Linked DNA regions of Homo sapiens. The protein of the gene in region 1 purifies or fractionates together with the protein of each later gene. This does not show direct contact. Each region holds a gene or a part of one and is shown on either strand. Other genes may lie near its edges.

Region 1 (3,810 bases):
AGACACTTAATAGATTGGTCAAAAGGACTCAGAGGCCAACTCAAAGAGGCTTTCCCTGGCCAAAGATGAGGTATTGAGCATCAGTAAAAATAATAACTGCAATGGATGAAAACACACATCACTTAGGTGAAGATCCATCAGTATAGTGATGGTGGGGGAAACCAACCTTGCTGGGGACTTTTGGATTCAACGCATGCATGTCCCTTCAGTCTTGCCCAGGCCCACTAACAAGAGTAAAGAATTTAAGGCCTAAAACCAGAGACAAAGCAAAACAGAAGAGGAGACAAGAGCAACAAAATCTAGACACTGGAAGCAGATGGTGAGTTAGAATTTCCTAATTTAGCAAACTCTAAAGAGCCAAACCCTAAGCCAAAATGAGGAAAGCTGAGAAGCAATCAGATGCATACTGATTGACACTCCCCAGATGCCCCGGAATAGGGGCCCTGGTTACCTTTGGAAGAGGGGATGAAAATGCTACTAAAAATATGAGCTGGTCGAAAGTTTGCTTAAGAAACGGCTGGGTCCCTAGTTCTTCCCGCAGTGCTGCACAGCCAAGAAATGTCCCTTCTCCCTGGCAGAAGACTGGAAGTTTATTCTTTAAAAAAGATAAAACAGAGGGTCTCTGACCTAGAGAGCATCAGACACAAGTGTGTGTTTTGGGGAGGGAGAAGGTCACTCTGCAAACAGGAAGAGACAGTACATGAATATTGATATTTATGGATACATATTTATAATACTGAAACACCCAGCCCTCTCTCTCCACCCCAGCTCCCAGAACACTGACAACCAACTTGTTATACTTCGAACAGAACAGAAGTTCCCTTTTCAAAGACTCTAATCACCTCAGGAGGAAGGACCTAACAATGCTGCCATTGCAAATTTCTAAGTGATACGGCCCAGCCAGACCACTCTCATGAGAAGCCATAGCTGACAACCCTAGCACTATGCTCAAAGCTTCCAGCCACTTTTTCGATAGAGAGAGCTATGAACAAACTCCACCAGACATGTGTGGAGAGCATGTATATATATGAAAAGGCTGAGACCCAAAACGGAGAAAAGCAACCTATACAGGAAGAAAACAACTCTAAAAAAGACAGAAAGGTTTCAATATCACGGGAGAGGTAAGATGGTGCACACATGAACAAAGTATTCATTTAAATTAAAAAGAGAGGGAAGCAAGAACCAAAGAGCCTTTGGACATTTTAAAATACGAAAGCTCTCTGTGTGTAATGTTGATGGCTGCTGGTATATCCCTGGGCCACCAACTGAAGGACTAAGCCTTCTCCCACGCACTGCTTGTCCCCCCAGCCTGCCCTCTGCCCCACCCTGTCCACTGCCTGCAGCCTTTCCCTGCGGTTCGGAGCCTGGCTGGGCACTCACACAGTCTATGTTCTCTGTCATGTTCAGAATGATGTAGTTTTTCCCAGCCAGATTGCTCCAGTCCTTGCAGATCACCTGTGCGAGGAGACAGAAAGAAGGGCGACAGTTACGAAGGCATAGGAAAGGGACAGGGGAGAGAGCCCCGGTCGGAGGCCTTTTGGGAAGCTGGAAGGTGGAGGCCAGTGGAGGCGTATTACAGCGAGGGGGCTGCTGACAGCCTCTGTGAGGCACCATGCCAAGGAGTACAAACTCGAATGTCTTTGGGGACCAAGCAGGGAATGTATTGAGTGAGAGGAGGAGGCCAGGCATTATTCCCAGGAAGTAGGGGACTATATCAAAGGGGCCAGGCTGCAGAGAGCTTGCCCCACATGCTGGCTTTCAAGGGCAAGTTTATTGTTAATATTCTGGGGCTCCTTTCTTTTCCTTGCGGTGTCAGTGGGTGTGAACACTGACTTGTGCCTGCTATGCACATGGGTGTCGGTGGGGAGGAGGAGGGTGGTGAGATGGGATGGGGAAAGCACAGGTCAGCCACTAGCTCTAGCTGCTGGTAGAATCAGTGCAGAAGTCTAAGTGTGGGCTGGGTGCGGTAGCTAATGCCTGTAATCCCAGCACTTCAGGAGGCCATAGCGGGTGGATCACTTGAAGTCAGGAGTTCCCGACCAGCCTGGCCAACATGGTGAAACCCTGTCTCCACTAAAAATACAAAAATTAGCCAGGCATGGTGGCACATGCCTGTAATCCCAGCTACTCAGGGGGCTGAGGTATGAGAATTGCTTGAACCTGGGCGGTGGAGGTTGCAGTGAACCGAGATCATGCCCACTTCACTCCAGCCTGGGCGACAGAGTGAGACTCCATCTCGGGAAAAAAAAAAAACAAAAGATGTCTAAGGGTGGCAATGGTAACACATGAACAAATGAAACCCAGGCCAGGCCACCAAGTTTCTCCAAAGGCCTTTGCACAGAAGTGTGGGGAGAACACCCATTGTTGGCCCTGAGGTTTGCATCCCCACAAGTTCCATGGGGTTCTACGTGCTGTGGAAAGGGCCTCCCTCCTCAACCTGGCAGATCCTGCCCCCATGCCACACTAGCCCTGGGGATGGCCAGGCTCTGTGAAGAAGGTACAGGGTGGTGGCCCGCATGCCCCTCACTTTACCTGCGTAGAATCCCAGGGTATCCTGGATTGAGCTTCAGCTGCCTGCCCTTCTAGGAGCTGCTGGTTGAGATCTTCTTGTCCCAAGGTAGCAGAGGAAGGTGTCAGTTCCATGTCTCCAGGGGCCAGTGGGGAAGAGGCTGAGGTTCTAGAGCCAAGGGGATCTTCATCTGGGTGCTCGGCCCCACTGGGAGCTGTGGTTTGAGGGAATGAAGGCAAGGCCGGCACCTCCTCGTGCTGGCCAGACAAACCAGCTGCTCCTGCAGTGGCTTCCTCGCTTGCTTCCTGAGGAGCCTCGAACTCTACCCCAAGCCCTGCAGCTGGCAGCACTGTGGCCTCTGCCTCTTGGCTGGTGGAGTCCTGGTCCCCCGGAGTCACTGTAGTTGGGGTGACTGAAGGCAGCAGCAAGCTGGGCCCCATGCTGCTCTCCACCTCCACACCTGATGAGGCCTGGTCCCCGGAGTCTTCATGCCTGCTTTTGGTGGCCCCTGGGGTCTGGCTGCTGCTGGTGAGAGAAAAGTCACGGACCTGAGGCTTGGCTTCTTCTTGGGATCCATTCACAGGGAGCAGCTCCTCCTCTTCCTCCTCCTCTTGTTTCTCTACCTCTTCCTTCTCCCTCTCCTCCTCTTCCTCTTCCTCTTCTTCCTCCTCTCTGGGAGGCATATGCCAGGGAGGCTCAACCAGATTCATCTTGGGCAAGGGAGAGGGGAGGTTTGGCAGCTCTTGAGCCTGGCTGGTGTCTTCAATGGAACCTGCCTTCTCAGTTAAGTCAGGAAAAACATAATCTAAGGACAGAGATGAAAAGTTCATTCACTTGTTTCATCATTCATTGCTTTACTCAGTATTTACTGGGCAGATGGCATAAAAGAACCACAATACACTGACAGGGCAGGGGTCATCAGGTCATGATGGAGAGGCCAGGGGAGCAGACTGTGGGAGGACACAGGGACAAGGCTAGTCACTGTTTCCTTTATGATGATAAAATAATACAAATTTATCACCAAAACTCAATGAACACAGGAATGTAGAAAGTTTTGTATATTGCATTCCTCCAAAAGAGCCATGAGTAGTTTGAGGTATATATTCTCCACTGTGTTTGTAATGTGCTTGCTTGTCCTCATCTGGGGATTTCACCAAGAAGATCCCACAACAACCCACTAGGAAGGGTCCCCCTACTCCTTTTCTAGTGAGTCGTTATAAGAGTCTTCTTGGTGGAGTCCCCGAAGGAGGTCTGAGAGCCCTCTCATCACTGGAGGAAGTGAGACCCCTCAATTATGACCA
Region 2 (3,810 bases), on another chromosome or scaffold:
TATTTTTCCTCTTCTATTAGCTTGAAAGTTATATGCTCTTTTCTCAGTTTTAAGTGGTCACCCTAGAATTTAAAGCAGGCATTCATGTTGTACCAAAGACTAATGATAATGTGTACTTTACCTTCTTCCTGGACAGTGCAAGGATCCTAACACACTTTAACTCCATTTATTGTTGTCATTTGTTTTAATTATTTCTGTTTTAAATCACACAACCCATTGTTTTGTGCAGTCAGATATTTAGATTTTCACCCTTATAGTCACTGTATTTGTTGTTCTTCGTTCCTTCTGGAATCTGACTTTACATCTGGATGGGGATCATTTTCTTTCTCCCTGAAGAATGAAAGTGTGAGTCTGCTAATGAATTCTTTTGGTTTTTGTTTGTTTGTCTCAAAATATCTTTATTTTACCTTCATTCTTGAAGGATACATTTGCTGAGTATAGAATCCCATGCTGGCTGTTACCTTCCTGTATCTCCAAACATATCAGTCATCTGCCTTCTTGCTCCCGCTGTTCCCGCCGTGAAGCCGGGTGTCAGGCTGATTATTGCTCCTGTGAGAGTCATTGCCTTTTTTCCCTCTGGTTCCTTTTTCTTTAAGATTATTATTTTTTTTATGGCCGGGCGCGGTGGCTCACGCCTGTAATCCCAGCACTTTGGGAGGCCGAGACGGGCGGATCACCTTAGGTCGGGAGTTCAAGACCAGCCTGACCAACATGGAGAAACCCCGTCTCTACTAAAAATACAAAATTAGCCAGGCGTAGTGGCGCATGCCTGTAATCCCAGCTCCTCAGGAGGCTGAGGCAGGAGAATCGCTTGAACCCAGGAGGCAGAGGTTGCAGTGAGCCAAGATCACGCCATTGCACTCCAGCCTGGGCAACAAGAGCGAAACTCTGTCTCACAAAAAAAAAAAAAAAAAGAAAAAAAAAGGCTGGGCGTGGTGGCTCACATCTGTAATCTCAGCACTTTGGGAGGCTGAGGTGGGCGGATCACAAGGTCAGGAGATCGTGACCATCCTGGCTAACACGGTGAAACCCTGTCTCTACTAAAAATACAAAAAAATTAGCCGGGTGTGGTGGCGGGCGCCTGTAGTCCCAACTACTGGGGAGGCTGAGGCAGGAGAATGGCGTGAACCCGGGAGGCAGAGCTCGCAGTGAGCAGAGATTGTGCCACTGCACTCCAGCCTGGGCGACAGAGTGAGTCTGATTTTTTTTGAGAAAGAGTCTCACTCTGTTGCCCAGGCTGGAATGCAGTGGCACAATCTCGGCTCACTGCAACCTCCACCTCCCAGATTCAAGCAGTTCTCCCGCCTCAGCCTCCCAAGTAGCTGGAATTACAGGCATGTACCACCACGCCTGGCTAATTTTTGTATTTTTAGTAGAGACGGGGTTTCACCATGTTGGCCAGGCTGGCCTCAACCTCAAGTGATCCACCTGCCTCAGCCTCCCAAAGTGCTGAGATTACAGGCGTGAGCCACTGCACCCGGCCAAGATTCTCTGTTTTTAAGGAGAACAATAGACACTCCAGACTAGATGGGGGAGGACGTGGGTTGAAAAACTACCTATTGGGTACTGTTCTCCCTGCCTGGGTGCAGTATACCCATGTAACCTGCACATGTAGCCCCTGTATCTAAAATAAAAGTTGAAATTGAAAAGAAAGAAAAAATGCTTTTGTGGCACACGTTCTCAGGATTGCCTGGGGCTGTACCACGGGGAAAAAAATTAGAAAAAAATAGTTTCATGTTAAAAAAAACTTTTTTGTTGTTGTTGCTGTTTCCTCTATCCCTCCCTTCTTTTTTTGTGCCTAAATATGGTTTTCTTTTTAGTCATCTCCTTTGGTTTGTAGGACTTTTCAAGTTTGTGGCGTGTCTTTGAATCAGTTTTAGTAAGTGCTTAGACGTCTTTAAATATTCCTTTGCCTTCATTTCTCACATCTTACTCGGGAATCCCAATTATATGAGTCTTAGCCTCTCTCACTGTTTCCTCTGTCTCTTACCCACAATTCTATATCTTCCATTCTTTTGTGCTCTCGGGGACTCGGCCTAGGTTTTGTTATCTGGGTTCCTGGTGCCCAGAGTGGGAGCAGTGAGTCTGTGGCATCAATGAATGCATGAAGCATATTGCTCAAATTGGGGTACAGTGTTTTTTATTTTTCTGTGATCACAGAAGTAATATGTTTATTATACATTATTCAAACATGGTAAACAGTCGCCATAATCCCCCTCCCAGAATTACCCATCATTAATACTGGTTCATGTTCCTTTACTCCTGTATTCATTTCTCTTCATGCTCATCTGCATTGGACGTTAATGGTCTTTTTCACAGTTGCCAGTCTGACAGGTCAACATCCTGTTTGGGTTTGCCTTTGTGATGGGTCTTTGTTTAATCACTTGCTTACATACCCATCTGCAGACTTCCTGAAAGTGGATTCTTGTCACCGTGTGTGTTGACACCTTAGTTTTCACAAGCGACTTCCTGATGCCTAAGGCAAGGCTTTCTCCCTTGGCGTAGGCGGTGCCCATCCCTGCCCCAGCTCACATGGTGGTGCCCTTGAGTCCCAGAGCACGACCCTGACCAGCTCTCATCCCCAGCGCTGGTACCACACTTAGGCTGGGCTGGGGAGGTGAACTGGTGAAGGGCTGGGTTTTGGAGTCAGCCAGACCTGGGCTTGAGGCCAGCAGCACTGACCCGGCCTGATTTTCCTCACTTGGGAAGGTTGGTTAGCAGGGTGGATGTGGCAGTGGATGTGGGTGACCAGAAAGGGGCTGGTGCAATTTATGTGAAAGGCCTGCAGGCCGCGGGAAGTACTGAAGGCAGAGCAGAGCTCTCGGAGTCAGAAAACCCTGCATGTGAATCCAGACAGTCCGCTGAGCAGAGCTCTCGGAGTCAGAAAGCCCTGCGCGTGAGTCCAGACAGTCCACTGAGCTGCTCTGGACAAGTTGTTACACCTCTGAATTTGTTTTCCTGTAAAATACTTTGCTCAAATAGGAGTTGTAACGTCTGCAGAAGGTTCCAGGGCAAGAGCAGTGGATGGAGAGGAAATGGCTGGTGGGTTTGGCTGGTAATGAGGGTGAACAGTGTGGCAGCCACCTAAACCTACTCAGGAGCAGCCTGAGGTCTGCTGGCGGGGTCTGGGCCTCAGGCAGCCTTGGAACACTGGCCTCCCCCACCTCACCTGGTGCCCAACAGTCTCTTCCCTTCACGGCCAGAACATTTAGGGGTCTGTGGTCAGTGGCACTTGTGGCCCTGTGCCAAGGAGTGCCCAGTCTTAGCTGGGGAGAGAAGAGAGGTCTGTGGGGCAGGGGCCGTGCTGGGGTTGCCTCCAGCTTGCTGGAAGGCCCTGGGGAGCTCTGAGCAGCCCATTCTGCTCTCCCTCCAGCCGTGCTTCCTCAAAGACTGGGAAATGCACGTCCACTTCAAAGTCCACGGCACAGGGAAGAAGAACCTCCATGGAGACGGCATCGCCTTGTGGTACACCCGGGACCGCCTCGTGCCAGGTGGGCTGGTGTTCGCTCAGCTGGGCCCTGTGGGGGTGGGCACGGGCATGGCTGCTGGCCCCCTAGGGAGGTGGGGTGGGGCTGCCTGTGGCTCGTGGGGACCAGCGTCTCCTCTCCTGTTAGGAAAGTGCTGCCTCCCGTGGATAAAGTCCTGCGCCTCCGGAAGGAGCCTGGCTCTGGAAGGAAGGTCACTGAGGGGAGAGGAGCAGCTGGGTCCTGCAGCTCAACCCTACACCCTCATTGGCCTGGTTTTACCATTTTAAACAGTTATTGTTGTAAAAAAGCCAAAACATGAAGACTGTGTGGCTGTGACTGCATG

What was found.
Region 2: the proteins of PODXL2 (region 1) and LMAN2 purify together in Homo sapiens (affinity purification with mass spectrometry; one large-scale study listed by BioGRID and IntAct). This does not show direct contact.

The regions. Positions count from the first base shown.
Region 1 is NC_000003.12:127,659,882-127,663,691, reverse strand, and holds part of PODXL2 (podocalyxin-like protein 2 precursor), read right to left. Parts: intron 3,315-3,810; coding exon 2,533-3,314; intron 1,456-2,532; coding exon 1,381-1,455; intron 1-1,380. UniProt on the Homo sapiens protein: Acts as a ligand for vascular selectins. Mediates rapid rolling of leukocytes over vascular surfaces through high affinity divalent cation-dependent interactions with E-, P- and L-selectins.
Region 2 is NC_000005.10:177,338,169-177,341,978, reverse strand, and holds part of LMAN2 (vesicular integral-membrane protein VIP36 precursor), read left to right. Parts: intron 1-3,373; coding exon 3,374-3,491; intron 3,492-3,810. UniProt on the Homo sapiens protein: Plays a role as an intracellular lectin in the early secretory pathway. Interacts with N-acetyl-D-galactosamine and high-mannose type glycans and may also bind to O-linked glycans.